Homo sapiens: one gene and its partners. The protein of the gene in region 2 purifies or fractionates together with the protein of the main gene of each other region. This does not show direct contact. Each region holds a gene or a part of one and is shown on either strand. Other genes may lie near its edges.

Region 1 (7,025 bases), on a different chromosome or scaffold from region 2:
CCTGCACGATTACCCTGCAAGGTAGGTACTATTATTAGCCCCGTTTATCAAAAAATAAATAAATAAATAAATAAAGTTTCCAAAGTTTCAGTAAATAAACAAGCGGCTGAAATTTCAACCCAAGTTTAAAATACAAACCAACAAAGAAACAAGATTCAATTAACAGAAACTCACTTTGCTGCCAACTTCACGTGAATGCATCTTTTCTGTTAAGGAAGGAATCTGTGTATCATAACTCTAAATTGATCTAAAAAGCCAAAGGATAAAAGCCAGCATGGCAAAAATATCTTTTCATCTATTGCTCTCCTTGCCAATCATTATCAGTTAAAACTGATTTAAGAAAACATTTCTTTGCAGTAACAGGAAAAGATAAAATTCTCTAAATGATGTATTTCAAAACTTTTATGTTTATGATTTAACTATGATTTTTACATGTGCCTATAAGTTTAATCTAAGATCAAATAAACAGAAAATTTAAATGAAACAAAAGGGGAAATAAGTCAAACCTTTCTCTGCATTCTTGATAGAGATTTTCTCTTTTCTTTGAAAGTCATAAATTTTTTTGGTTTATTAATGTCTTCTGTATCTTTTTTCACTTCTACTTCCTTGATTCTTAGGCATAAAAATGTTTTTAACATCTAATATTGGAAAAAAAACACAAATATACAGCTTAATATTTATATTGCCCTCAAAAACTTTACATAGAAAAGCATTTAACAGTGTTATTTCCCTCGTTCATGAAAAAACCTTCAAACATCTTTTATAACATTTTACACCAACTTCTTTTATCTGTATGCTATATTAATAACTTGTGTCTATGGAAGGACGGGAGCAAACATACAAAACGGACGCTAGCAAATACTAACTAAATATACAAAACTTTCTTTGCAGTTTAATGAGTATAAGGAAGAGAGAACACATGCCAACAGGATGACAAAGAGAAAACAGGCCAGGAAAAGGTTTGGACCAGTATGGGAGAAGATACACAAATTGCTGGGCCCTATCCCCAGAGTTTCTGATTTAGTAGGTCTGAGTTGAGCCCCAGAATTTGCATTCTAATTCCCAGCTGATGCTGGTCTGGGGACAAAAATAAAAATTATTGCTTTATGCCATTCAAAAATTCAGAAACTAATTTGGAAACTGGTGTTTTGTGTGATACAGCAAACTTCGCATACTCAAACACTAAGAACAAAAGGGGTTTAAAATGCTACACTTTCTCTGGATGAAATCACCCTACCGACCTCCCGCAGGCACAGCAGCATTCCTGGAAAAAACCTTGAGAACTACAGGTTTGTATTATTTTGATGTTCCAATATGCACATTTGGAAGAAAGCTGAGTATTTGGGATTACACGGCTAAAAGCACAGAATGAAACAAGGAATAACTAAAGGCATAAAGAGTGAACCTGAAGTCATTCTAGGTATCAGAAAGACCAACTCTGAATATTTTGTAGGTACTGTATGTGCTCAAAATATCACCTACCAACGAAAAATAACTCCAAATCAAATGATGTAGTTTTTACTCTAGCATCACGAAAGTTAAAGGGTTTTCCTATGGCTGAGTTTCATGTTCAAGCCTTATCTGATTGCTCTACAATTCTAAGTAAAGATGCTAAATATGCTCTGTTACTTTCATTTAATGTTTATAATTTTAGCAATTCAACTGAAATCAGATTTAAGAAAATAAAAAGGAATCTGATGCCAAAGGAAAACTGTGAAATCCAGAAATAAAATGGTAGAACAGCTTAACACCCAAAACTGTATTACTAAAGACAAATTAAAATATCTAAGACCTCAGTGAAGAAAACTATAAAATTTTACTTAAGAACATAAAAGAAGTCTTAAATAAATGGCAAGATATGATATTCTTGAATAGAAAAAAATCAATTCTGTAAATATTTTAATTCATCCAAACTAATCAATACATTGAATCGATTCTAATCAGATTCTCTGTGTGGACTATTTTGAGGGAAGGAAGTGAAAAATGGATTCTAAACTGCCTGGAGTAATATACTGAAATAAATAAGAATATTGTGGAGAAAAAAGAATAGTCATGTCTTTTATCAATTATACCCTTTCTGATTATTATTGTACCACATACCCAAATATACTATAGATATAACACAATAATTAAGCAGCATTTTATATCAGCAGAAAAAAAATGGTGATGAAATAACTGGCTGTCAGATTATATCAAATATATACATAATATAAATATTCAATATATATTAAACTATATAAAATATATATTCATTACATATATTAAACACAGATATTAAATCTGTACTCATACCACACATACAAAGATGTCAAATGGTTTAAATATTTAAATATAAAAATTAAAATTAAAAATCTCGGAGAGACTCCGTAAATTGGGATTGAGGAGACTATGTGCATAACAAAAAATATAGCTTCATATATAAGGCTGAACACAGAATTAAAAGGCAAAGTAAAAAAGAGAACAATCTGCAACCTATGTAACAAAGAGTTAATATTCTTTATGTAATGCAAGCTCCACAAACAGATAGTTTCGTTTCTTTTGTTACTATTTTATTCCCAGGACCTAAAAAAAGTGCCTGGCACATAGCAGTTATTTATTAAAATGAATATGTACTAAAAACTCATCACAAGTCATTAAGACAATTACTTTAAGAGAAAAACTGACAAATAATAAGCAGGTAAAAAAAGTTTATATATATATAAACTTTTCACCTACCTGACTAACAAAGATTAAATAGTAACATTCTGAGCAGGTAGGAGGGAACTGACACTCATATTCCTAGCAGGAACACAGTGATTAAATGTTTTTGAACAACAATTTGAGTTTGTAAATGTGATTACTGTTGGATCCAGCATCTACATTTTATAAATTTAATTCACAGAATATTCACACAATATGAAAAAATAATATGGCCAAAATGTTCTCAACACTGACTGTGGCAGCAAAAATCTAGAAAAAACTCAGCTGTTCAACAATTAGGGCACACAATGGAATACTCTGGTAGGCATTAGAAAGAATGGGATAACCCTATATGTAAGTTCACAATATAGAAAATGAAAACTGTTCCAGAACAGTTTTCAAAGTATAAGCCCATTTTTTATTTTAAAATATAAGCAAGTATATATGACTATATCTGCAAAGAAAAACATCTAGAAGGATAAATACCGAACTGTTAATAGTATCAAACATTTCAGGAGTTGACATGTTAAACACTTAAGGAGCTTGAATACTTTTTACTTCATACACTTATAAGGAATAAATTCCTCATAACAACTGAAAATCAACTTTGTAATTTAAAAACAAAATGCAAAGTAAAAAAAAAAAGGCTCACCTCTGGCCTAACTTCGTAATTTCTGCCCTTCACAAAACCAGAAATCACTTTAATTACACCAAGAGAAGCTTGGCCTAATTTATCTTGCTTAAAGAGTTTCTTCACAGCTTCACAACACATTTCAGATATCTGAAAAATAAAATGTCATACTTAACCAGTGTTTCTCAACCTTAGCACTACTGACGTTTTGGGTAACAGAATTCTTTGTTGTAGGGGGACTGTCCTAGGATGTTTAAAAGCCTCCATGGACTTTCTCCACTAGATGCCAGTAGTTAAGACTCTATCGCCACCACAGTCATCACAATCAAAAATGTATGCCGACATTGCCTAATGTTCCCTGGGGGACAAATTTGCTTCCTGTTGTGAACCACTACACCAAACTTATGTTCAGATAATTTTCTTCAGATAGACAGTGTTTAATAAATTGACATTATTTTACCAATAAATAACTTCAGAAGAATTTTGTAGGGGGAAAAAAATCACATGGTGTATAATTTTCTTTTTTTATTCATTTATTTATTTTTTTTGAGACAGAGTCTCGCTCTATTGCCCAGGCTGGAGTGCAATGGCGCAATCTCAGCTCACTGCAAGCTCTGCCTCCTGAGTTCACGCCATTCTCCTGCCTCAGCCTCCCAAGTAGCTGGGACTACAGGCGCCTGCCACCACGCCCTGCTAATTTTTTGTATTTTTAGTAGAGATGGGGTTTCACCATGTTAGCTGGGGTGGTCTCGATCTCCTGACCTCGTGATCTGCCTGCCTCGGCCTCCCAAAGTGCTGGGATTACAGGTGTGAGCCACCGTGCCTGGCCCACATGGTGTATAATTTTCTAAGGAGGACAGCAATAACCATTTACAGCAACTCACCAATTTTGACATGTCATTCATGAGAGGGACAATCAATACGATGATGTTGTTGTGAAAGTTAAAATGAGGTAGTGCCACCAACAGCTCACACAAGCTCTTCACAGCGACTTCTGCCAGTCCTTTGTATGCCTTTAAGGAAACTACATTACTTTTCTTCAGCTTCCTCTGCTTCCAATCTAATCAAAAGATAACTGTAGTTACTTTACTCATTGGTCAAAAGTTAAACTAATTGGCTTTCTTTTACAATCAATGTACATTTTAACACACATAAACACACACACACACATTCCCACACCCCTTAAAAAAAGACTTCATATGCTGGGCACAGTGGCTCACACCTGTAATCCCAGCACTTTGGGAGGCCAAGGTGGGCAGATCACGAGCTCAGGAGATTGAGACCATCTTGACCAACATGGTGAAACCCCATCTCTACTAACATAAAAAAAAAAAAATTAGCCAGGCATGGTGGGTGGCACACGCCTGTAGTCCCAGCTATTCAGGAGGCTGAGGCAGGGGAATCACTTGAACCTGGGAGGCAGAGGTTGCAGTGAGCTGTGACTGCACCACTGCATTCCAGCCTGGCGACAGAGCAAGACATCGTCTCAAAAAAAAAAAAAAAAAAGAAGAAGAAAAAAAGACTTCATAATGGTTCGATCTGCTCAGGAAAGGTCCAATATGGAGGCTACTAACTGCCACATATAGGAGTCAATTGAGCATTTGAAATGCAGCTAATACAAATTAAGATATACTCTAAGTATAAAATACACTCTAAGTATAAAATACAAACCAGATTTGAACTTAGTACTAAAAAAAACTGAGAATGTAAGACATTAATTTTTAAAATTTATTACATGTTGAAATGATAATCTGAATATATATAATATACTATTAAAATTAATTTCATTGCTTTTTAGTGTGTCTGCATTTTTTTTAAATGACATATGTGGCTCATGTTATAGTTCTATCAGACAGAGATGGTTGCACAAAGATCCCAGGAGCTTTCCAAACAGTTCAGAAATTCAAAAACAAAAGAAAAACTCCCAGGCCCTCTCACTGGAAGAACAAACACTAATAGGGTGCCAGCTGGAACACCAGAACATAGAAGCAATATCCATACTACCCACCCCCACCCCACTATACTCCACTACCTTTATGCCCTTATTAGGCCAACAGGATTCAGTGGTCCTGTTCCAGCTGACAGCAATGGGTGATCTTAGTAAATAAGCTGGGTAAATGAGCCAATTAGGCCAAATGAAAACACCTGGCCTAGGCAACAACTGTCTTCCCTATTCCTACCCCTATTTTTTCTATGTCCTTCCTTTTCTGAAGAGTTTAAGAGTTTATCATCCCAAATAATTGACTCATAAATCCATTTTCAAGACATGCAAATATCCATTTCTAGTTATCCTTCTATTTATTTATTCATTTCTTTTGAGACAGGGTCTCACTCTATCGCCCAGACTACAGTGCAGTGGCATAATCATAGCTCACCGCAGGCTCAAACTTCTGGACTCAAGTGATCCTCTCAGCTCAGATCTCCAGTAGCTGGGGCTCTATAGGCATGGGCCATCATGCCTAATTTTTTTTTTTTTTTTTTAGAGACAGGAGTCTCACTACATTCCCCAGGCTGGTCTCAAACTCCTAGCTTCGAGCAATCCTCTTGCCTCGGCCTCCAAAAGCACTGGGGTTACAGGTGTGACCCACCACGCCTGGCCTCTAGTTATCCTTCTTCCCTGACTACCATGCCTCCAAATAAAAAACAGCAGAATAAATCCCAACTGTTCATAACAATGTATTTTGTTAAATGCATTGTAGTCAACAAAAATACAACTACTTACTAAAAACTGCAGCAATAATACTAATAATTGATAAAATATAGTGTATAGTACATGCTAGGCACTGTTTAAAGCACCTCATATCTACAAACTCAGTTACTTCTTACAATAATCCTGGAAGGTAAGTACTATAATTATTTCCATTTTTTAGACAGGAAAACTGAGACACAGAAAGACTATGTAATTTTCCCATCACATAGGTAGTAAGTGGTGGAGCCAGGATTTGACCCCTGGAAGTCTGACTCTAGATTCTGTTCCTGACCATACCTGCCTCTCACTACACAACACAGAACACTGTACAGAATTCACCTTCATGATCAAGGCTAAGTATGTTACAAACTTTGAAGATATGTTTAATATACCTTTAACCATTTGTTCCAGATTTTCCAAATAAAACTTGTATTGGCTAACCAGGCCTTCTTCAAATTCTCTTAACTTCTGGGTTTCTTTTCGGGTCTGAAAAGACCAAAAAGGTCAATCATTTTTTAAAATCAGAACATTAAAAGCCCAAAATTAGTATAAAATATGTGTGTCTAGTATACACCCAGTACTATTTAAAAAAACAAAAAACAAAAAACGCGGCAGTCGTTTAGGCCAGGCGTGGTGGCTCATGCCTGTAATCTCAGCACTTTGTGAGGCAGAGGCGGGTAGATCACCTGAGGTCAGGTGTTTGAGACCAGCCTGGCCAACGTGGGGAAACCCCGTCTCTACTAAAAGCACAAAAATTAGCTGGGCCTGGTGGCGCATGCCTGTGATCCCAGCTACTGAGGGGGCTGAGGCAGGAGAATCACTTGAACCCGGAAGGCAGAGGTTGCAGTGAGCCAAGATCACGCCACTGCACTCTAGTCTGGGCGACAGAGTAAAACTCTGCCTCAAAAAAAAAAAGTCTATCTCTCCAAAATGTTTAGTTATTTTAGATAGTAATTATATCTAGCAATCTAGCATTACCTTAGTAGATTTTTCTGCTTCTGTGAGGGGCCGGATTTTATATGAAGG
Region 2 (7,025 bases):
GGTTTTTAAATAGTCCTCTTGTTAGAAAAGATTTAGCCCTTATCCTCAATCTCACAGCCACTAAATAGTCAATTCACACAAGCCAAGTGATTTGTAAAATAGGAGTCTCTGCAAACTGAGTCCAACCAGCTTGAATAATAGCATCATAACATAATGGGATCCCTTTCTGGTGGTAGTGTCCGGGACCAAATACCAAAATTCCTATTTTAAGCTGTATTAAGATTTTCTAAATGTAGCTATGTTTCAAGAGAAAATGCTTGGTCTATGGATAGCTGAAGCCATGTAAAACAAGCATTCTTATCACATGGGTCCAATATCGCTGATTTTACATGGCAGATAGACCTTAAAACGCATTCCTACTTTTCCCACTCCCTCCCACATTCTTTAAAAGGGTAGGGTTTATTATCTCTCTGAATACTCAAATGAAAACTTAAGTGTATAAACAAAACTAGAAAAATCCTTAGATTAAGATGGGAGGAAGATGGTCTTTTGACCTCTTAATATTAGTTTGATCTAACATCTTTTTTTTTTTCTATTTTTTGAGACTGAGTCTCATTTTGTTGCCCAGGCTGGAGTGCAGTGGCGTGATCTCAGCTCACTGCAGCCTCCACCTCCCAGGTTCAAGCGATTCTCCCACCTCAGCCTCCTGAGTAGCTGGGACTACAGGCCTGCGCCACCATACCTGGCTAATTTTTTTTTTGTATTTTTTGTAGAGACAAGGTTTCACCATGTTGGCCAGGCTGGTCTCGAACTCCGACCTCAGGTGATCCACCTACCTCCCAAAGTCCTGGGATTACAGGCATGAGCCACCGCACTCAGCCTGATCTAAGTTCTTTAAATGATCATTCCATATTGTTAAACAATGTTTCTAAGTGAGAGGTAGAGAATTATATTAGTTGGTAGGAGGCCTAAATGCTTGAAGACAATTTAGAGAAAACTAGTTATTTCCTTGGCACAAAGTAAATCCTACTACTCCTGAAGTATAAGAAAAAATAAAAATAAAAACAATAAAAATAAACAATTCTTTGATCAAATAATTTTTTTAATTGACTTGTTCTGATCATTAGGGCCTACTTGTTCAGCCCACTATCCTTACATGCATTAGTGGATTCCTTCTCTTTTTTATCTCTGAAGATTTCAGAAGTAGATCAGTGGATTCCTTAAATGTTAAAGAAACCCTGTCTTCTGTAATCCCAGCTACTCTAGAGGCCGAGACAGCAGAATCGCTTGAACCCATGAGGTGGAGATTGCAGTGAGCCGAGATCGCACCACTGCACTCCAGCCTGGGTGACAGAGTGAGACAGAATGAGACTCTGTCTCAGAAAAAAAAGTAAAGAAAGAAACCCTTGCAATCAGAAAGAAAAAGAGAATTACAACTTAAAGTGACTAATGTTAAATATACTATTATATTTGGACTATATATAAACTAGAAACCTCCAGGGCCTGGCCTCAGGTGGAGTTGTCTTGCAGCTGATTGCTTGGCTCTCTTCTCTCTTCCCAACCTGATGTCATCCACTTCCACAACTTTAAATGCCATGAAAGTGATGGCTTGCCATTTCCAGCCCTGCCCTCTTCCTGGGCTCCATTGTCCCTCTATCCTCAGCCACGTGGCTGTTTCCTGTGTCCCACAAAAGTGCCACGAAGGAAACCCAGCTCTTCTCTCCAGACCTTACCCCAAACACCTCCTTCTCATCTTAATAGCATCATCAGTTGCTCAGTCACAAAACCTGGGCATTCTTGATCTCTCCCGACCTCACCCCCACCATCGGGAGAGGACTCATCAAGAAATTCCAGAAGCTTAAGTGTCAGGGACTCTCCTTTGCTCAGGACCCTCTATCTCATTTTGTGTTACCCCATTGCAGGGTCCTCTATCTCATTTTGTGTTTAGTTTTTATTTTTCTTATGGAAGGCCCTCAAACTGTATGATTTAGGCCTCACAAACCTTGGATCGGCCTCTGCACCCTCTGTCCAGCTCATTTCCAAAAGAAAACTATCTCAAAAAAAAAAAAGAAAGAAAGAGAAAAGAAAACCATCTAAAACCGACCACACAACAGTGAACACTGTTGATTGCTACCACCTCAGTCCAAGCCCCATCCCACCCCACCCCACACTGCAGCCAAGATGATCTTTGAAAGTTGAAAGCTTCTCAGGTCAGATCTCTTTCTTAACCCTCCACTAGATTCCCCTTTCCCCTAGGACAAGTCACACTACAAGAGGCAGGACACGGTGGCTCACACCTGTAACCCCAGCACTTTGGGAGGCTGAGGCAGGTAGATCACCTGAGGTCAGGAGTTCAAGACCAGCCTGGCCAACATGGTGAAACCTCGTCTCTACTAAAAATACAAAAATTAGCCAGACGTGGTGGCGGGCACCTGTAATCCCAGCTACTCGGGAGGCTGAGGCAAGAGAATTGCTTGAACCTAGGAGGCAGAGGTTGAAGTGAACTAAGATCACGCCACTGCACTCCAGCCTGGGTGACACAGCAAGACTGTGTCTCAAAAAAAAAAAAAGAGAGAGAACAAGTCACACTACAGAACCATCACAATGCCCTAGTAGCAGAACATGCTGCTGAACTATCAGGGTGCCCTGGGTGATCTGGCCTCTGCTGGCCTCTCAACCCTCTCAGCTTTAGCTATCCCCTTCTTTCCTTTCTGGAATACCCCAACTTGTTTTTGCCTCTGTCCTTCGTATTGTCACCTCTGCTTGAGAGAGCCTCCTCCATTTCTTTATTTGCCTCATCTTTCATTGTCACCTCCTCTCAAAAGACTGTCCCGGCAGGGCACGGTGGCTCACGCCTATAATCCCAGCACTTTGGGAGGCCGAGGCGGGTGGGTCACAAAGTCAGAAGTTCAAGACCAGCCTGGCCAACATGGTGAAACCCCGTCTCTACTAAAATACAAAAAACAAAAATTAACCGGGTGTGGTGGCGGGCGCCTATAGTCCCAGCTACTTAGGAGGCTGAGCCAGGAGAATTGCTTGAACCCGGGAGGCGTAGGTTGCAGTGAGCCTAGATAGCGCCACTGCACTCCAGCCGGGGTGACGGACTGGGACTCTGTCTCAAAGAAAAGAAAGACTGTGTCCCTAGGGTATGACCCCACTCCAAATCCAGTCATTCGTGATCCCATTATCTTCTTTTTTCACCTATAACTGTATGCAAGTATCTTATCAGTTTACTTGTTTATTATCTGAATTCTTTCAAAAGAGCTAAGCTCCCTGAAGGTGGGAACCCTGTCCGCATGCTCACCGTGGAATCCCCACAGCCTAGCAGCACCTCCCACAGAGGGGTGCCTAATATTTTTCTAAACAAATGAATGAAGAAAATGTTCATTAAACAAATACTACTGCAGTTAAATGTGGCATCAAGCAGTACTACACATAGGATGCATGGAATTGAAGCCTATGAACCATTATAAGGTCCCTTTCATTTGTTCCTCATTAACTGTGGATGACTAAAAATCCATGCTGCCAATAGCTCCAACTATGAGATGCAGATCGATGTCACAATTCAGACTCCATTATGTATGTCCTCACAATGCAGGAGGTGAAATGTGTATGTCATGTGTCCAAATTGTAAGATACTTGCTGTAAGTAGCAAAAAGATGGGAAGGAAAGTCTACAGACCAAATCATATCTGAATCTCCCCATTCTCCCTCTCCACAAATATTGGTTTAGGAATTCTCCGAAGTTTGAAGGTTATGAATGGTTATCACTCAAGGATTCAGAACTAAGGTAAAAATACTGTGAATGATAGGGGGAAAAAATCACTAATTGAGGTCTAAATCAATATCCTTCAGCTCTCTAAGGAAATGTATTTTTAATATAATAGCTTTATTGAGACATTCATACACCATAAAGTCCAAATTTTACTTTTTATTTTATTTATTTGGTTTTTTTTTTTTTTGAGATGGAGTTTCACCCTTGTCACCCAGGCTGGAGTGCAATGGCATGATCTCGGCTCACTGCAACCTCCACCTCCTGGGTTCAAGCAATTCTCCTGCCTCAGCCTCTTGAGTAGCTGGGATTACAGTCGCGCACCACTACGCCCAGCTAACTTTTGTACTTTCAGTAGAGACAGCGTTTCACCATGTTGGTCAAGCTGGTCTCGAACTCCTGACCTCAGGTGATCCACTCGCCTGAGCCTCCCAAAGTGCTGGGATTACAGGCATGAGCCACCTCACCCAGCCTAAAGTTCAACCTTCTAAAGTGTACAATGGAGTGTTTAGTATATTCAGTGGGCTGCACATTCATCACTATCACCCTTTCCTCACCCTAAAAGAAAACTCCATACCTGCTAGCACTCACTGATTCCCCTACCCACCCCATGCCCAGGCACATGGCAAGCACCAATCTACTGTCTATGGATGTGCTGATTCTGGACATTTCCCATAAGTGGGACCAAAAAAATGTGTGGTCTTTTTGTCTGATTTCCTTCAGGCAGTCTAATGAGTTTAAGGTTCACTCATGTTGTTACATGTATCATTACTTTATTCTTTTATTGCGAAGTAATATTTCCTTGTATAGTTAGAAGACATTTTGTTTATCCATTCACCAGTGGATGGACAGTTGAATTGTTTCCACTTTTTGGCTGTGGTGAATAATGTTGCCATGAACATTCATGTACAAGTTTTTGTGTCAACATATGTTGTCTTTTCTCTTGCACATATACCTAGGAGTGAAATTACTGAGTCAAATGGTAACTCAGGCTGGAGTGCAATGGCACGATCTCGGCTCAACGCAACCTCTGCCTCCCAGGTTCAAGTGATTCTCATGCCTCAGCCTCTCGAGTAACTGGAATTACAGGCATGCGTCACCACACCCAGCTTATTCAGACTGTTTTCCAAATTGGCTGTAACATTTTATGTTCCTATTAGCAAAGTATGAGCGTTTGAATTTCTCCACATTCTTGTCAACACTTGCTGTTGCCTTTTTTATTAAAGCCATTTTATTGGGTATGAAGTGGTAACTTACATTGTGGTTTTGATTTGCATTTCTCTAATGATGAATGATGTTGCACATCTTTTCATGTGCTTATTGGCCATTTGTATATTTTCTCTGGAGAAATGTCTATTCAAATGTTTTACCCATTTTTTTAATTGGGTTGTCTTTTTTTAATTGAGAGTAGGGCTTTTTAAATATTCTGGATATAAGTCCCTTATAAGACATATGATTTGTGGCCAGGCGCAGTGGCTCACACCTGTAATCCCAGCACTTTGGGAGACCAAAGTGAGTGGATCACTTGAGGTCAGGAGTTCAAGACCAGCCTGGCCAACACGGCAAAACCCCATCTCTACTAAAAATACAAAAATTAGCTGGGCGTGGGGGCGCACACCTGTAATCCCAGCTAATCTGGAGGCTGAGGCAGGAGAATCACTTGAACCTGGGAGGCAGAGCCTGCAGTGAGCTGAGATCATGCCAATGCATTCCAGCCTGGGTGACAGAGTGAGACTTTGTCTCAAAAAATATACATTATTTGCATATATTTTCTCCCATTCTATGAGTTGTCTTTTCTCTTTCTTGATGGTGTCCTTAAAAGCACAAAGGTTTTAATTTTGTGAAGTTCAATGTATCCATTTTTCTCTTCTGCCTTTTGTGATTTTGATGTCATAGCTAAAAAATGATTGCCTACCCCAAAGCGATGAAGATTTAGTCCTATATTTTCTTGTAAGAATTTTATAGTTTTAGCTCTTACATTTAGTCTATGATCCACTTTGAAGTTTTTATGACGTGAAGTATGGGTCCAGCTTCATTCTAACGCATGTGGATATCAAGTTGTACCGGCAACAATCTTTCCACAGTGAACAGTCATGGCTCCTATATTAGCCAGGGTCCTCAAGAGAAAATGAACCAATAAGAAATAGATGGATGGGCACAGTGGCTCACACCTGTAATCCCAGCACTTTGGGGGGCCCAGGCAGGCAGATCACTTGAGGTCAGGAGTTCGAGACCAGCCTGGCCAACATGGTGAAACCCCTGTCTCTATTAAAAATACAAAAAATTAGCTGGGTATGGTGAGGCACATCCGTAGTCCCAGCTGCTCAGGAGGCTGAGGCACAAGAATCACTTGAGCCTGGGAGGCAGAGGTTGCAGTGAGCCAAGATTGTGCCACTGCACTCCAGCCTGGGTGACAGAGTGAAACTGTCTCAAAAAAAAAAAAAAGGTAGATAGATAGATTTATTTTAAGGAATCTGCTACATAATTATGAGAGATGGAAAGTTCAAATCCTGCAGGGCAGGCTAGCAGGCTGGAAATTCAGGTTTGAGTTGATGTTGTAGTCTTGAGTTTGAAATCTGAAGGGCAAACCAGCAGGTGGAGATTCGGGCAAGGTTTCTGTGCTGTGGTCTTGTAGCAGAATTGTTTCTTCCCCCAGAAACCTCCATCTTTGCTATTAAGGCCTTCAACTGATTAGATGAAGCCCACCCACCTTGTGGAGGGTAATTTGCTTTAGTTAAAGTCAACTGATTATAAATGTTAAATTGTATCCACAGATACTTTCCCAGCAACATCTAGACTGCTGTTTGACCAAACAACGGGGCTCCAACAGCCTAGCCAAGTGAAACATAAAACTAACCATCACAGTATCCTTGTCAAAAATCAGTCTGACAACACATGTAAGGTTTATTTCTGGAGTCACTATTCAATTCCATTGATCTATATGTCTGTCCTTATGCCGGTAACACTTGTGTCTTAATTATTATAGCTTTTTTTTTTTTTTTTGAGACGGAGTCTAGCTCTGTCACCAGGCTAGAGTGCAGTGGTGGAATCTCAGCTCACTGCAATCTCCGCCTCCTGGGTTCAAGCAATTCCCTTGCCTCAGCCTCCCAAGTAGCTGGGACTACAGGCATGCACCCTCACGCCCGGCTAATTTTTTGTATTTTAGTACAGATGGGGTTTCACCATGTTGGCCAGGATGGTCTCGATCTTCTGACCTCATGATCTGCCCGCCTCAGCCTCCCAAAATGCTAGGATTATAGGTGTGAGCCACTGCACCCGGCCATTATTACAGCTTTATAGTAAGCCTTGAATTC
Region 3 (7,025 bases), on a different chromosome or scaffold from region 2:
CCTCTCAGCCAGAGCCTGCTTGGGAGTGTGGCTTCACTCCGTAGTCATCTGCTCAACTGCAGAACTGGCAGACGCCCCCCGTCAGCTCCCACTGAGCCCACAGCCCTGGCCTCCCAGGGAGATGCTGCCAGCACCCACACTTTGACCAGCCGGGGTGTGAAAAGCTTCAGTGGGACAGGCTTGCTCTTCTCACAGGTCAGCGGCCGGCAGAGCTGCTTCTGGCTTTCCATTTCGGTCAGTGTGCTCTGACACAGCTCCTGAAAAACACGAAATCCCCGACTCTGCGATGACTCACCTGCTGCGTGCCCTGAGCTCCACGCACGGGTTCTGTGGTGTCAAGGCAGCGTGAGGACAGTGCTGCGAGCTCCCTGCAGCAGGATGGTGCCCTTGCTGTGCGCCTACCGGTGGGCGGGGGGGTAAGCCAAGGCTGTGGCTGCTCAAGTCCTGGCACAGCCGGAACGAAGTAAAGCCACTGTCTTCTTGAAGAGGGAGGGCCGTGGGCTGGCCCCTGAGAGCACTCTCTGAAAGGAGGGGACTTGGGGAGTTGGAGGTCACCATAGCCTGTGCTCCTCACAGCCAGAAACGTCAACAGAACCCCTCTTTCCCAGACAAACTTGGCACGAAAGGCCGTGAGCCACTTGCTTCGTGAGAAGGCTCACAGGAGAACCCCTTTCTGCCGCGGGGGGCCGTGTGCATGCTAGAGCCCAGTGTGCAAACTGACGCTGGGTGCTAGGCGGGGCAGGGTTTCCACCAGTCTTGGCAGTTTGACCTTATTTTCAAGCCAACAGAACCAGATGGTTAAGACCCATTTTCACCAAGACCTTGGCTTCCAGAAGAGTTGGCTGGTGGCTTCTGAGGAATCTCCCGAAAGGTAGTTCACTGAGGTTGGTCCTACCCGCTTTCTCCTGCACAGGTGTGTCCTGGAACCCTGGCTGCACCCACAGATACAGCCACTCCTGGGCCCATGTGGATGTAACCTTCGAGTGCCGGAATGCCTCGTCTCCATGGAGACCAAACTCAAGGGCCTGACTGGCCCAGTCTACCGAGACCATGAGACCTGCTGTGCCCCTCGGCCAGGCCAACCCAAATTCTTTTAAATAAAAGGCACAAGCCACAGCCACACCAGCAGGAAGTGGATACAGGATAAGGGGCAGGGCTCACATCTCATCCTCATCAGCCTTTGACCAGGCGACGGAGTCTGTGATAGCTAGCTTATCTGCTCTATGCTCCAGGGACCTGGCCGGAACGAGCCGAGTTGCTGTCCTCATGGAACTCTCATCCTAGTGGGGCAGAGACAAGGACGGTGTAACGTGCCCGGGGGTCAGCACCACAGACAAAACGCAGGGAGCACGGCACAGTGTGGGCCAGGGAAGGCCTGGCTTCCCAAGGGTGTGGGCGCGAGCAGCATGGCTGTGGGGAGTTCTAGGTGCAGAGAACTACTCCAGAGACGAAGCCAGGCCTGCGAGGAGGCCGGAGCGCATGAGGGGAAGGCACGAGGCAAGGCTGCCAGGGCTGTGCTGGTGGTGCGGGACGGTCCTGTGGGGGTAGCTGCGGAGATGGCACTGATGCCTTCGGCTCCAGCAGCATCCTGGGCTGGTGCGGGCCAATAAGGGGCAGGGTTGGGGCAGGATGAAAGGCACAAGCCACAGCCATGTCAAGCAGGAAGTGGATGCAGGGTACAGCCTGTCAGGGTCAGGGTGAAAGGCAGGGAGGCGGGTAGGCCATAGGTGAATTTGGAGCAGCCTGTAGAGGACAGGATGTGCCATCAAAGACTTGTTCTTGGGTCCAGCTGAGACTGTCCCTTGGGGCTTCCTGTCACCTTGTGCAGGATAGTGAGACCATCCTTGGAAAACCCATCGGGACTGCAGAGCGCGGCTCAGAGCTGACTGTCCAGGCCTGGCAGGGGCTGACCCCTGGGCGCTGGTGCACCCTCCGTGCGGCCTCTTGGAGGAAGCACACAAGGCGACAGTTCCCAGCTGCCGCCTGAGATGCAGCATCTGCTTTACTCCAGCCCAGCACTGCTCACCGTCACTGCCCACTCTTATGATTTTACTTCCCTTCATATTTGTGATTTTGCAAAGATGGTGTTGACTTACAGCTGCAGCATCAAATGACTGACTGCCACCAGCTTGGCCCCAGCTCAGGGACATGTCTGAGCCCAGGCAGAGCACCCTAGTGGCCGGGAAGCCTCACCTGGAGCTCCTGCGGGTGGCTGCAGTCCGCCAGGTGATCCGTGAGGAGGGCTTGGAGAGGCCCCATGATGGCGTGGAAGGATGGCAGGGACCCGTACATGAGCACGCAGCGCTTCAGCAGGGCCAGGCCCACAGCCAGGCAGGACAGTCTGTGAGGGCAGGAGGCAAGAGGAGGTCCAACTTGTTCTGTTTGTCACTGACAAAACCAATAACGTGGCAAAAATGAACTTCCCCACTTCCACTAGGCTGAAAACTCCAGTGTGGCCACCTTGGCCGGCCAGGGTTGGGCCCATGCAACCACGGGCAAGGCAGGCTCAGGGTCAGGCCTAACGCAGGAGGGGAGGCTGTGGGAACCGCAGCGCCAGCTGGGATGGGGCGGCTCCATTTTTGGTTCCAAATTATGATTTGTGAAATCAAGCAAATGTATTTTGAAAATGAAAAGAAAAAGGGACAGCAAGCCAACATGCCTCAGAAAGGCTTTCGGCCTCCATCAAACCAAACGGCCGGGCGGCAAGTTCACTAAGAACAGCACATCAGAAAGCACGAGTGGCTTCTCCTGCCTCTGGGGACGCTGTAGGGCACAGGCCCCAAAGCGGGGTCCCCTCACATACCGGATGTGATTGGCCTCTGTCGAAGTTGGGGCCCTCAGTCTACTCGCCCAGCGGAGGGAGAGGCTGCTCTGCTGCCACGTGGCCACATCCTCTCTAGCAGACACCACGAGCAGTTCCGAGTTCTTCCCAAGCGCTCTGAAAGGGTGCACCAGAGTGGAACCTGAATTCCAAGTGCGACAGGACAGAGATGGCCTGAACATTACTGGGCTCCCAGCAGGCTCTGCGGCACCGAGCCTGTGGAAGTTCACCCTCTAACAGACGCACACCGATTTTTATGTTTCTGGGTTGTGCCAGACACTGAGGGTTTCAGCGTGGGCAGGGACACCTCAGGGGAGGGGAAAAGCTTTGGCAGGGGGCGCGGTGAGAGCCAAGTGCCTGATCCTGCCTGAGAGGCCTGCTGGCCACAGACTTCCTGGGGCCTACTAGGCACACATGGGGCTGATGAGGCGCTCAGGCCACATCCGGGAACAGACTGAAGTCCCTGCCCCTGTCGGGGAGACAGGCAGTGCACAGCACCCAGAGGAGCAAATGGACCAGACAGAACACGAGAAAGGAAAGTGGAGGGGCAGGAGGGAGACAGGAGAGTCAGTCGGGGGTGACGGTGGAGGGCGGGAGAGGCCTGAGGGGCAGACGTCAGCAAAGGCCTGTAGGACGCAGGAGTCAATTCACTCGCCACGGAGAAGGGCAATCCAGGCCGAGGGTGTGGCTACACGGGGAGGGGTGGAGAGTGGGTACAGTGGGGCAGAGGTGCCGGGCCAAGCGAGAGGGGAAGGCGTGGGTCAGGCCCCGCCCCACACTTCCCCAAAGCCGAGATGCCCACCCCTTCCTTGACTCCACCTGTGCCCAGCCTGTTCCGTCACAGCCCTTCACACGTGGGACTGCAGCTATCTACAGGTGGCTCTCCCGGAGGCAGGGAGCATGTGGGCGGCCGCGCCCCTCTGGCGCCCAGCACCGAGCCTGACAGACAGGAGCCTTGGGAGGCAGGTGGTGGCAGAATGGGAGCACTGAACCGGAAGAGTGGGCCAGACCCCTCTTGGAAGGGACTCTGCTGGTGGTGTGAATGATGCCACAGCACCTGCTCCTCAGGTCAGTCCCCTGGACATGCAGGCGCTTAGCACTGCACGGTGAGCTGGAAATAGAGGACAGGGGTCTGAGCCTTGAGGTCCAACCTCTGGTCAGGCTGGGAGAGGCGTCCACAGACATGGAAGAGCTCAGGAAGAGGCTGTGCAGCTCCTCACCCCCCAGAGGGAAGCAGCAAGTGCTGAGGAAGCATCCAGGAGCAGGGCTGGCATCAGGGGAAGGGGGAGGAGCACAGGGGCTGGGGTGAGGGCCCAGGAGGGCAGCCAGTGTGCAGACTGCTCCTCATCCCAACACTGCTCTTGCCGCCCTCGCTCCTGAATTCAGAGCGTTAAGAGAAGCGACACAGCAGCGCGGCCTGTGTGAGCTGCACGAGAACTTTCACACTGCCTTGTCGTCACGTGAGAAAAAGTAAAAAGTTAAGATTGATTTTAACAATAGACCTTATCTAACCCCAAATACCAAAATATTATGATTTTAACACATAATACAAAAAATTAAGATATTTTAAGTATTTCTGACACTAAGTCTTCGCCACTTGGGCATATGTCACAGGTAGGGTACGTCTCAGTTCAGACTCTGGCCCCTGGCAACCACGCTGGACAGCACAGGTCACCGGTAGCACTGCTTTTCCCCATGTGGCGCGTGCACACGCTCACACAGAGGGACAGACAGTGCGGCGGGTGGCAGGTTGTGTGTTTCCTCTACTTTCGCATATTCTAAACTTTCTACAATGAGTATGAACTACTTAAAAAAATTCTAAAGTATAACATATTTGTAGGAACCTCCCTCAAATCAACTCACCTTGGCTTGCTTTGTTTGGAGTTGCTATGTAAAGAATCCCAAGAAGAAAATTAATAAGCTCAGGTATAAACCTCTGGGACAAAGCCACATACTCCAGGAACAGGCAGCACACGAACAGGCCCTTCACCACGTCCTGGAGGGACAGGATGGGGCACTGGAAAGGAACATATGGGGGGTTACTGTCCTGGGACGATGTCATGCCATGCTAGGCCGACCACCGGGCTTCCCTGATGAACCACGCACCCCACTGAGCTTCACAAGTACAGAGGGAACCCCCGCACCTTATAGCAGTGTCGAGAGCATCAAATGAGATGAAAACAAGATAAAGAGCTTTAGTGATTTTTTTTTCCCGAGACGGAGTTTCACTCTTACCACCCAGGCTGGAGTGCAATGGCACAATCTCGGCTCACTGCAACCTCCACCTCCCGGGTTCAAGTGATTTTCCTGCCTCAGTCTCCCGAGTAGCTGGGATTACAGGCATGTGGCACCACACCCAGCTAATTTTTGTATTTTTAGTAGAGACGGGGTTTCGCCATGTTGGCCACACTGGTCTTGAACTCCCGACCTCAGGTGATCCGCCCGCCTCAGCCTCCGAAAGTGCTGGGATTACAGGCGTGAGCCACCGCGCCTGGCCAGAGCTATACTGATTATAAAGTTCCTTCCACCCATACAGAGCGTACGATTACTGCACTAAGCATGTACCAATCACATGCCTAATAAAGAAAAAGGAACAGCTTGAACTTTTTAAGCCAAAAAGGGAACAAAAGCCCTTATCATCACACTGGATAACTTCACCACTAACTTGAAAGGTTGTTTTCTGGGGTAGCACCATCTGTAACCTTGAGGTGCCAAACCAGGCCCTCCCACTCCCACCCACATCTGGGGCTGCTCGAGCCGGGGCTCTTTTAGATGGGCCCTCTTTGGCCTAACCGCAGTGCTCGGTCTCTGCAGCCCTTAAACAGCCACACTCATGTTCCACAAGGCCCCGAGGGGCTGTGGCTCCGGCCACCCGTGGTGCAGCAGGCCGACCCCTGCCGCATGTGGAGAGAACGCACCTTGGTGAGCAGCTGACTGAGGCACACGAGGGCAGGGGTCACCACTGGGTGCCAGAAGTCGGAAGTTGGAAATAGCAGCCCAGTGATTTTCAAATAAATGAGCTGGAAAGAAAGTGTTACCACAGGTTAAAGAAGGTAAATGAAGTCCATCCATATGCCCTCCCCGCAAACACTCCGGAGCCAAGAACAGGATCTGGCGAGGAGAGGGTGCATCTCCTTGGCCCAGAGCTCTGGCCTCAGTGTCACAGAACAGGCGTCCAACCACCGTGGGTCAACCAGCTAAACGTGCAGTGAGGACACTGAGGCCCATGAAGACTTCAAAGCAGTCAACAATGGTTATAGACACGGGCTCAGATCATGTTTTGGGGAGTTGATTAAAAATCACTAACCTAAGTCCTACATTTTTAAGCTTCTGCTAACTATTGTGAATCCATTTCAACACAAACACCAGGCAACAGAATAAAGAGCGTATCTCAGCAAGTATTTCCTTAAAGTTACTAAAGCTGAAAATACAGCATGAGGCTGTTATAAAATTGTTAAAAATCTCAGCGTACAAATGTCTCCCAACCTTTGAATAACATAGAAACCGAGACCAATTTAAACCAGCCCACAGGCTTGGGCCCTTAAGGACAATACCGTGGTTCTATTTGCCTTCCAATGTTTTTGTCACTGGACCAAATACAGCACCATTCACGTGGAATCAAACCAGAATCTCCCTGCACGACCCACACGTTAGTCCATGGCTAGTGGAGGAGTGCCCTCCCCTCCCAGGCTCGCTGCCGTGCACTCTCACTCCAGATCACCCTCACTGCCGTGCACTCTCACTCCAGATCACCCTCACTGCCGTGCACTCTCACTCCAGATCACCCTCACTGCCGTGCACTCTCACTCCAGATCACCCTCACTGCCGTGCACTCTCACTCCAGATCACCCTCACTGCCGTGCACTCTCACTCCAGATCACCCTCACTGCCGTGCACTCTCACTCCAGATCACCCTCGCTGCCGTGCACTCACTCCAGATCACCCTCACTGCCGTGCACTCTCCAGATCACCCTCACTGCCGTGCACTCTCCAGATCACCCTCACTGCCGTGCACTCTCACTCCAGATCACCCTCACTGCCGTGCACTCTCACTCCAGATCACCCTCGCTGCCGTGCAGCTCACTCCACATCACCCTGGAAGCACAGGGTACAGCCAAGAGCATCGTACCCGTCGTCCACCTTCTGTGATGCCAAACAGAACTTCTGTGGCAGGGGCAGTGCCTAGACTGAACTCTGCTTACCA
Region 4 (7,597 bases), on a different chromosome or scaffold from region 2:
CACCATGCCCCATTAATCTTTAAATTTTTTGTAGAGACGGGGGTCTCCTTATGATGCCCAGGCTACTCTCGAACTCCTGGGCTCAAGAGATCCTCCCACCTTTGCCGCCCAAAGTGTTGGGTTTATGAATGTGAGCCACTGCATTCCCAGGCAGTTTGGGTCTTCATTATCTTATACTTGGGCTACTTTAATATCATCCCTACTTGATTTGGCGGCAATTTACACTATTATCAGATGTCTTTTTTTTTCTTTTTTTTTTGAGACGGAGTCTTGCTCTGTTGCCCAGGCTGGAGTGCAGTGGCGCAATCTCGGCTCACTGCAAGCTCCACCTCCCGGGTTCACACCATTCTCCTGCCTCAGCCTCCCGAGTAGCTGGGACTACAGGCACCCGCCACCATGCCCGGCTAATTTATTTATTTTTTTGTATTTTTAGTAGAGATGGGGTTTCACCATGTTAGCCAGGATAGTCTCGATCTCCTGACCTCGTGATCTTCCCGCCTCGGCCTCCCAAAGTGCTGGGATTACAGGCGTGAGCCACTGCGCCCAGCCTATCAGATGTCATCTTAAAACAGCTTTTTACATGTCACTCCCATGCTTAAAACTTCCAAAGGCTCCCTATATAGTAGTCTTCAAACTTTCTGTGTGCCCCATTAATAACAGAGTTTTTGAGCAGATCCCTTCTCAACATATGTGTATGTTAATGAGAGCATGTAATTAAAGATGTTCTTTTTTTTTTTTTTTTTTTGAGACGGAGTCTCCCTCTGTCACCCAGGCTGGAGTGCAGTGACGCAATCTCGGCTCACTGCAAGCTCTGCCTCCTGGGTTCACACCATTCTCCCGCCTCAGCCTCCTGAGTAGCTGTGACTACAGGCACCCAGCACCACGCTGGGCTAATTTTTTTGTATTTTTAGTAGAGACGGGATTTCACTGTGTTAGCCAGGATGGTCTCAATCTCCTGACCTCGTGATCCGCCCGTCTCGGCCTCCCAAAGTGCTGGGATTACAGGCATAAGCCACCACGCCCAGCCAAAGATCTTTTTTTTTAAGAAAAATCTTGATTCAACACTGTGATAGATTTAAAGGTTCTAATTTCAGCTTAATTCAATGTTTGGTTTTAATGGCTACTATTATAAAAAAAATTCAAGCAGTACTCACTTTCGCACTGTACTGTATTAACGGGACGGGTTGCATACTGGAATCAATTCCCCACTTTGCAAAGTTTCGTGGTTAACAGATGTGATTTCAATCACTGTAAACCTCTTAAAGAGTGGGACTGGTTCAGTTAATATGGTACTGTGCAAAGTGCAGAATGCCTGTACTTCACAAAGAAAGCATACCCAAAATGATAATGTCCATAATTGGCCACGTTTATTTAATATATTTAATTTTCAGTCTCATCCATCAGTTTTGCAAAGATTATTTTTGAAGTCTAGAAAATTTCTATCTACTCTGATGTCAGCAGCTGTTCCTACAACTAAAATTAGCATTTTAATAATTTCAACAGAAGTTTAAAAACCCCAACAAGATAGATCATTTTGTTTCTAAATCTCTTCATGTAGGCAAAAATGAATCTTTATAGATGGAGAAACTGACATTTATTAAAGCAACTATGTGCTAGGTGCTGTCTTAACAGTGCATACACGAACATGATTCTTCCCCTTTTTGGAGGCTAAGTCTGATGGGAAAGACTATTAACCAAAATAATAATCATGAGACAATGTGATAAACACTGTGAAGAAGTGATAGAATCACAGAAGACGGGTGCTGAAGGGGGCGGGGCTCATGCAGGAGGTAAGCAGGAACAGATTACTGTTCGGTGAAAGTCTTCCAGAGAAAGCGGCTAAACTGGGTAAGGGTGTGTGCCACAGGAGGCCTTAAAAAAGATGACTGAAACGCACTGAGATTTGCAAGGGTGAATACTAAACCACTTGTGGGAAACGTAGTGACTGACTAAAGTGGCAAGGAAGGTGGGACCAGAGATTCAAGGACTGGGAACGATGCCAAATCCAAGTGACAAATCTAATTTATATTTTAGAAACATTACTGCCTTGTGACAAACTGTAAACATCTTTTGAGCAGAGACTTATTAGCAATGCTCACACACATGTTGATAATATCTCCTACTCAACCAAAATAGTGAAATACTGTTTTCGCCTCATCTCATCTCGCTTACTCCTCATTCAAACTAATGACACAGCCCTTCTTTCTATGCCTTAGGTTCATTCCTGCCTGAAGACCTTTGCTCCTGTTATTCTCTTTATTTAGAACAATCTGCTTACGCATGGTTGGTCCCTTGTCATTTAGGTATCACAAAGTACAATTTATAAGTGGTTAGCATGTTAACGGGGGAACAGACCAGGAAGGATAAATTAATTTCATTTAACCATTCTTTCATCAAACTTCTTAAGGGATGGTAAGAGAAAACTGATGCTTTTAAATTCATCTTTGTCTCTTCCAACATCCACAACTAATGTGAAGTAGTAAAGCGGCAAGAAGAGCAGTAGGAAGGTTTTAAAAGCCTGTTTAACTCTCAGCCCTTCAACCCACGAGTTTGGCTCATTCAAGTCCACTTTTCAGTAATAGGAACCTGAAGACAATCCCAGAGCAGCAGCTGGAATTTTTCTCCACTATAGACAACTGTTTCCCACTCACCACTAGAGGAAATTCTTAGAAAAAGGACTTGAACAGACTTTACTTGCTATCCATCCAGTTCCGCAGCGACTCCGTAAGCACAAAGTTTGCCTTAGCGAAAGGTAACTGAGAAAGAACCAGACCAGAGTGCCAGCCTCCCCCGGCTTTACTCCGCGAAAGCCGAGGCTAGACCCAACGACTTGCGGAAACCGTCCCTTTCTCCCTACCAACTTATCTTACCTCTCTGTAAGTCCAACTTGGTTTCGCGGACATAATTGTCCGGATTCCGGCTCAGCATCTTCACCTTCATCTCGGTTGCTCTTCCGGCCGGACTCCACGAGGTGTCCGCTAGGAGTTCCGCCCACCGCCACCTCCTCCCACAGGCGACTTCCGCTTTTCCCAGACTACTTCCAGTCACGTGACTCGCGGAGCGGCGGCCTGCTGGCTCAACTGGATCCTGCGCCGCTCCGTAGTTTTGCCGGCAAACGTTAGCAAGGGGCGGTTCTTTAGCTGTGCAGTCGCTTCCGCGTCCGTGGGCTGGAGCATTTGTGGGCGAGGCAGGGCGGAGACTCGGGAGAGGCTGGGACCTCCCCTCCATCGCGCTTTCCGCCGGCGTGACGTAGTGTCTGTGCCCCGTTCTTGCCCCCTCAGTACTAGAGTCTCCGGCTTCGCTCACGCGCCTTGGGCATAAGAGTCCTCTCGTTGGTCCCGGAGGTGGGGTTGCGCTCACAAGGGGCGACCGTCGCCACGGTGGCGGCCACTGCATCGCGTCCCACCTCCGCGGCCCTGGGCGCCGTGGTGTCGACGGGCCCCGAGCCTATGACGGGCCAGGGCCAGTCGGCGTCCGGGTCGTCGGCGTGGAGCACGGTATTCCGCCACGTCCGGTATGAGAACCTGATAGCGGGCGTGAGCGGCGGCGTCTTATCCAACCTTGCGCTGCATCCGCTCGACCTCGTGAAGATCCGCTTCGCCGGTAAGAGCCCGCCCAGACACCGGGCTGCATCCTCTCACTGTCAGCCCGAACTGGATCTCCTCCGTCTTTTCCGTTCTAGGGGGAGGAGGAGCGTTGAAGGGAGCGTTGCTGTCCGCGTTGGCTAACCTGAACTAGATTTGAGGAAATGGTGCTTGGTGGAGGGGTCGGCCTGCGATCTTCCCCGCTCCTCAAGACTAAGAGAGGGGGCATGTATGTAGAGAAGTCTGAGAAAAAACATCCTCATTGGCAGAGAAGATGGGATTCAAAGCCTGATTTGTAAAATAAAGAAGGGATTGTCACATTTTAAGGTTTAGTCCTCACACGTGCAAATCATTCACTCTTGGAGGAACTTTGAAATCTTAGCATACCCACGTGGTTTGGCAGCTCGACTAGTATTGGGATAGGGCGTAATCTTCAGCGAATGGTTGGGAGTAGATTTAGAATAGAATTCTCTTGAATGTTTGTTTTTTGGCATTTGTAGAATGGTACAAGTTTCTGTGAAAAAATAGCTAGAATCGAAATACTATTTTAAGTGTATTAGATGAATTGAGTATGTTGAAATTAACAAAGCATTTTAGAAGTTAAACTCAACACTAAAGTCTGGAAAGAGTTTCAAAGATGATCTTTGATAACTGAAATTGCAGAAAATAGTTTCCAAATAAAGTTATTACAAGTTAAGTTCAGCCTTGAGAATTAAATCTACAGAAGTTGTTTATTTTAGCATTAGGCAATTCAGTTCACTTGATTTATATTCTCTTAATATTTGTAGACTGCTGTATGGGCTACAGAAGTATCTAATAAAGTTCTTGCCTTCAGGGAACTTAGAATTTAATTGTAGGCGTTAGACTTAGTCATATAAAAGGTAATTCTAGACAACATAAAATCAAGAAATACAAAAACAAAATATAAATACAGGTAAACCGTTAAGAAAATTCTACATTACTGATGGCCATGTGTATCTTTAAGGTTCAGTGGAAGATTGGGGCTTGGGGTTTCCCATAGAAGGGCTAATATTTTGACAGCTGGAGAGGAAGCAAGAACCCGTTCTATGAAGGAAAATCATCGAAAATTATGGAGTATTATCTCTAGAAAAAACACCACAAAGACATATAATGTCATGAAGTTTTATGATGCATGCACAAATAATTATGTTATTGACAAGTAATCTTTATCGAGTATTTACTAGGAGCAAGGCAGTGAACTATGCTTTAGATGCATTATCTCATTTATTATCCTGTAAATCTATTCACAGGAACAATCCTGTGAGTTTATGATATCTGCTATACAGATGAGGATAACAGAAGTTGACTAACTTGCCCAAGTCACAAGTTTGTAAAGATGGATCTGGGATTTAAACCCAGGTAATCTAACTCTGGAACCCTCTGGCACTTAACCCCTCACCGTATTACCTCTATAAGTACCTGTTATACAATGGTTTGAACATTGGAAGAATTTTAGACTTGCCTGCAGGTGCAGGCCTGTATGACTTGCTGTCTGTCTTCAGTAGCATTTTATCTAGGAGCAGAAGAGGTGATAGTCGAGGTGATCATTGAAGAATAGTGTGGTTGGCCTGATGAGTTTAGACAGTGCTTTGAAGCATATCATTCCTGAGGAAAGGGAATTCTTGGTACCTGAGAAGATTAATAGTCTTGATGAATTGGGAAGAGTATTAGGAGACTAGTGGGGCTGAGGTGACAGATAAAAGGATTGAGTTTGGATTGGAGGCCTAAATTAAAGATCCAGGAGTGGAAGCAGGACTTTGTAATAATAAAGCTCACAGTGTAGCTGTGAAATGGTGATAGGAGGAAAACTTAAGAAGATGAATAACGAAATAAAAATTTATTGATTATCAACATCAGTGCTGAGTAACATACTATAATTTTTATGCTTCCATGTAATTAAACTCATTTAATAAAGTTAAAATCTAATGATGACAGGGTGTGGGGGTTAATTCTGAATGCATGTGCTATTAAACCAAACCTGGAATTTTTCTGTGAGTTCAAGTATAAATTGGAACTCAGAGGTGTCCAGAGTGGTAGAAAGATTAGAAATTACTTCATATGAAAAATGACTGGAGGAACTAGTTTAGCTCGGGAGAGAAAAAAACCTCAAGATATTTAGAGAACTTACATGTGGGAAAGGGGGCTGCCTTATTGTGGGTTGATCCTAAGGTCAGACACAGGTTGAGTGGAAATTACAAGGAAGCAGATTTTGGTTTGGCAATGTGGCAGTGCTCAGAAATGAAATTGATGATGATCAGAAGTGGTTCAGATAGTAGTTGGATGACAGAAGTTAGAAGATATTCTTGTATTAGGTGGAAAGATTGGATTGGATGATTATTCAGGCCCCTTCTAACTTTACTCTGTAATTTTAAACCCTCAAGAATGATGAGAGAGCCCCAACAAAGAATGAGATGTAAAAATAGTAATTTTCTCAAATACCCAAAAGCCTAATCTGCAAGTTAAAGTTGTGTGTGAGCTTTTGTGAAGAATGTAGAGACTATGACTACATCCAAAATATTAAGGAACCAAAACGTAAAATTCAGTAACAGTAGTGCCGAGTAAAGTTGTGTAAGTATGTGGTATCGCAAGACCCAGTAGCATAAATAAACTAGTACTTACAGAGTGCTTGCAATATGTCAGGCATAATTCTAAGAGCTTTATATGTACTAACTGATTTAATCCTTTATAATTTTTAGAGTTAGGTTCTATTATTTTTTCCTATCTTACAGAAAAACTCAGGCACAGAGCAATCAAGTGACTTACTCAGGGTTGCAAAGTAATTGCTAGAACTGGGATTCAAGCTCAGAAAGTCTGTTTCCGTAACATATGCTGTTAGTTTGAAACCATGAGTGGGTAGTTTGGTATAGCTAAAGGGTAAATTAAAATGCTAGAGATGGAAATAAAGAATGATTCCAGAAAGTTAAGCTGCCAGATTGACATTATCTTTTATGCCATGTGAAAATGGAAACTGGCAGTAGAACCACAACCCTTAGTAGGGCAGGATGTTAGGAATAAGAGACCAGGACTAGAAGCACAGGGATGGCAGTTGAAGCCACTTAATGGTTGAGACACCACCCCTATTTGGTGGAAATTGTGCCTATAAATCAGCATTTAAGGATGGGCAGAGAAAAGGGGGCCAAGGAAATTTATTGGCAAAGAAGCAAGAGGACATTCAAGAAAATGTGGTGTTAAATGAGCCAGAAGAGAGGGATTTACACAATATCAGGTGTATTAAGGGGTTCCTAAGAAAGAGAGAACTCCAAAGTGCCTTTGAAGGTTCTTAATTAGAGCGCTTGCAGTAATTGGTAAAGCTCAAACCAGATTGCAGCAGGGGTGAGAGAGTCCCTGCTGAGATTGTCTCGGGGGCCAGGGAGGGGCTGGTTTTCTCATTGCAGACACTTACCTGATAAGGGGGCACTGAGATCAAAGAGGAAATACTTAGGAGAGACTTAAGTCTATTTAAATACTAATGGGAAAGAACTGAAATCAAGGAAGAAATTGGGAAATGGAGGCAGGAGGATAAAGAGTAACGTATCTAACTAAGGTGGGTTATCTGAAGAAGCAGGATCTAGAACAAGCATTTTTGACCAGAACGCTTAGTAGGAAATAAATTTTACCTTTGCTATCCACACACAAACATTACTGAAACACAAGTTTCATGAAACATTACTTATCCTTAACTACTTGTAATGTCATTTATATTTGTTTTCAATTCCAGTCTGGTTTTAAAGAAAAGATACTGGCAATCTGTTCAATTGGTTTCTTGATTCATCTGCAATTTTAAAAACACCAATATAGAGCACAGGTAGGGGGGAGATTAATTTTATTAAGAGAGACAAACTTGTCACAGAGGAAAGGAGGGGTAAAACTAACATCCAGCAAATGAAACAGGTTGTGTAAGGGTGATAGTGCTAGATGATAATTTTTTTAAAGTCATTATATTGTCTTTCTTTGAAAATGAATTTAAAATTAGTGTCCTGTCTTGGCTCCTT

The links.
Region 1: the proteins of IPO5 (region 2) and NOC3L purify together in Homo sapiens (affinity purification with mass spectrometry; 2 studies listed by BioGRID and IntAct, with this or other methods). This does not show direct contact.
Region 3: the proteins of IPO5 (region 2) and NOP14 purify together in Homo sapiens (affinity purification with mass spectrometry; 2 studies listed by BioGRID and IntAct, with this or other methods). This does not show direct contact.
Region 4: the proteins of IPO5 (region 2) and DCAF13 purify together in Homo sapiens (affinity purification with mass spectrometry; 2 studies listed by BioGRID and IntAct, with this or other methods). This does not show direct contact.

Annotation. Positions count from the first base shown.
Region 1 is NC_000010.11:94,345,919-94,352,943, forward strand, and holds part of NOC3L (nucleolar complex protein 3 homolog), read right to left. Parts: coding exon 6,978-7,025; intron 6,486-6,977; coding exon 6,392-6,485; intron 4,371-6,391; coding exon 4,195-4,370; intron 3,461-4,194; coding exon 3,332-3,460; intron 639-3,331; coding exon 507-638; intron 1-506. UniProt on the Homo sapiens protein: May be required for adipogenesis.
Region 2 is NC_000013.11:97,956,675-97,963,699, forward strand, and holds part of IPO5 (importin-5), read left to right. Parts: intron 1-3,672; exon of another isoform or gene 3,673-3,729; intron 3,730-6,485; exon of another isoform or gene 6,486-6,608; intron 6,609-7,025. UniProt on the Homo sapiens protein: Functions in nuclear protein import as nuclear transport receptor. Serves as receptor for nuclear localization signals (NLS) in cargo substrates.
Region 3 is NC_000004.12:2,939,389-2,946,413, forward strand, and holds part of NOP14 (nucleolar protein 14), read right to left. Parts: coding exon 7,024-7,025; intron 5,842-7,023; coding exon 5,740-5,841; intron 4,839-5,739; coding exon 4,685-4,838; intron 2,964-4,684; coding exon 2,804-2,963; intron 2,342-2,803; coding exon 2,194-2,341; intron 258-2,193; coding exon 139-257; intron 1-138. UniProt on the Homo sapiens protein: Involved in nucleolar processing of pre-18S ribosomal RNA. Has a role in the nuclear export of 40S pre-ribosomal subunit to the cytoplasm.
Region 4 is NC_000008.11:103,410,790-103,418,386, reverse strand, and holds the start of DCAF13 (DDB1- and CUL4-associated factor 13), read right to left. Parts: upstream 3,002-7,597; 5' UTR 2,941-3,001; coding exon 2,871-2,940; intron 1-2,870. Other genes in the region: SLC25A32 (solute carrier family 25 member 32), read left to right, coding at 3,450-3,603. UniProt on the Homo sapiens protein: Part of the small subunit (SSU) processome, first precursor of the small eukaryotic ribosomal subunit.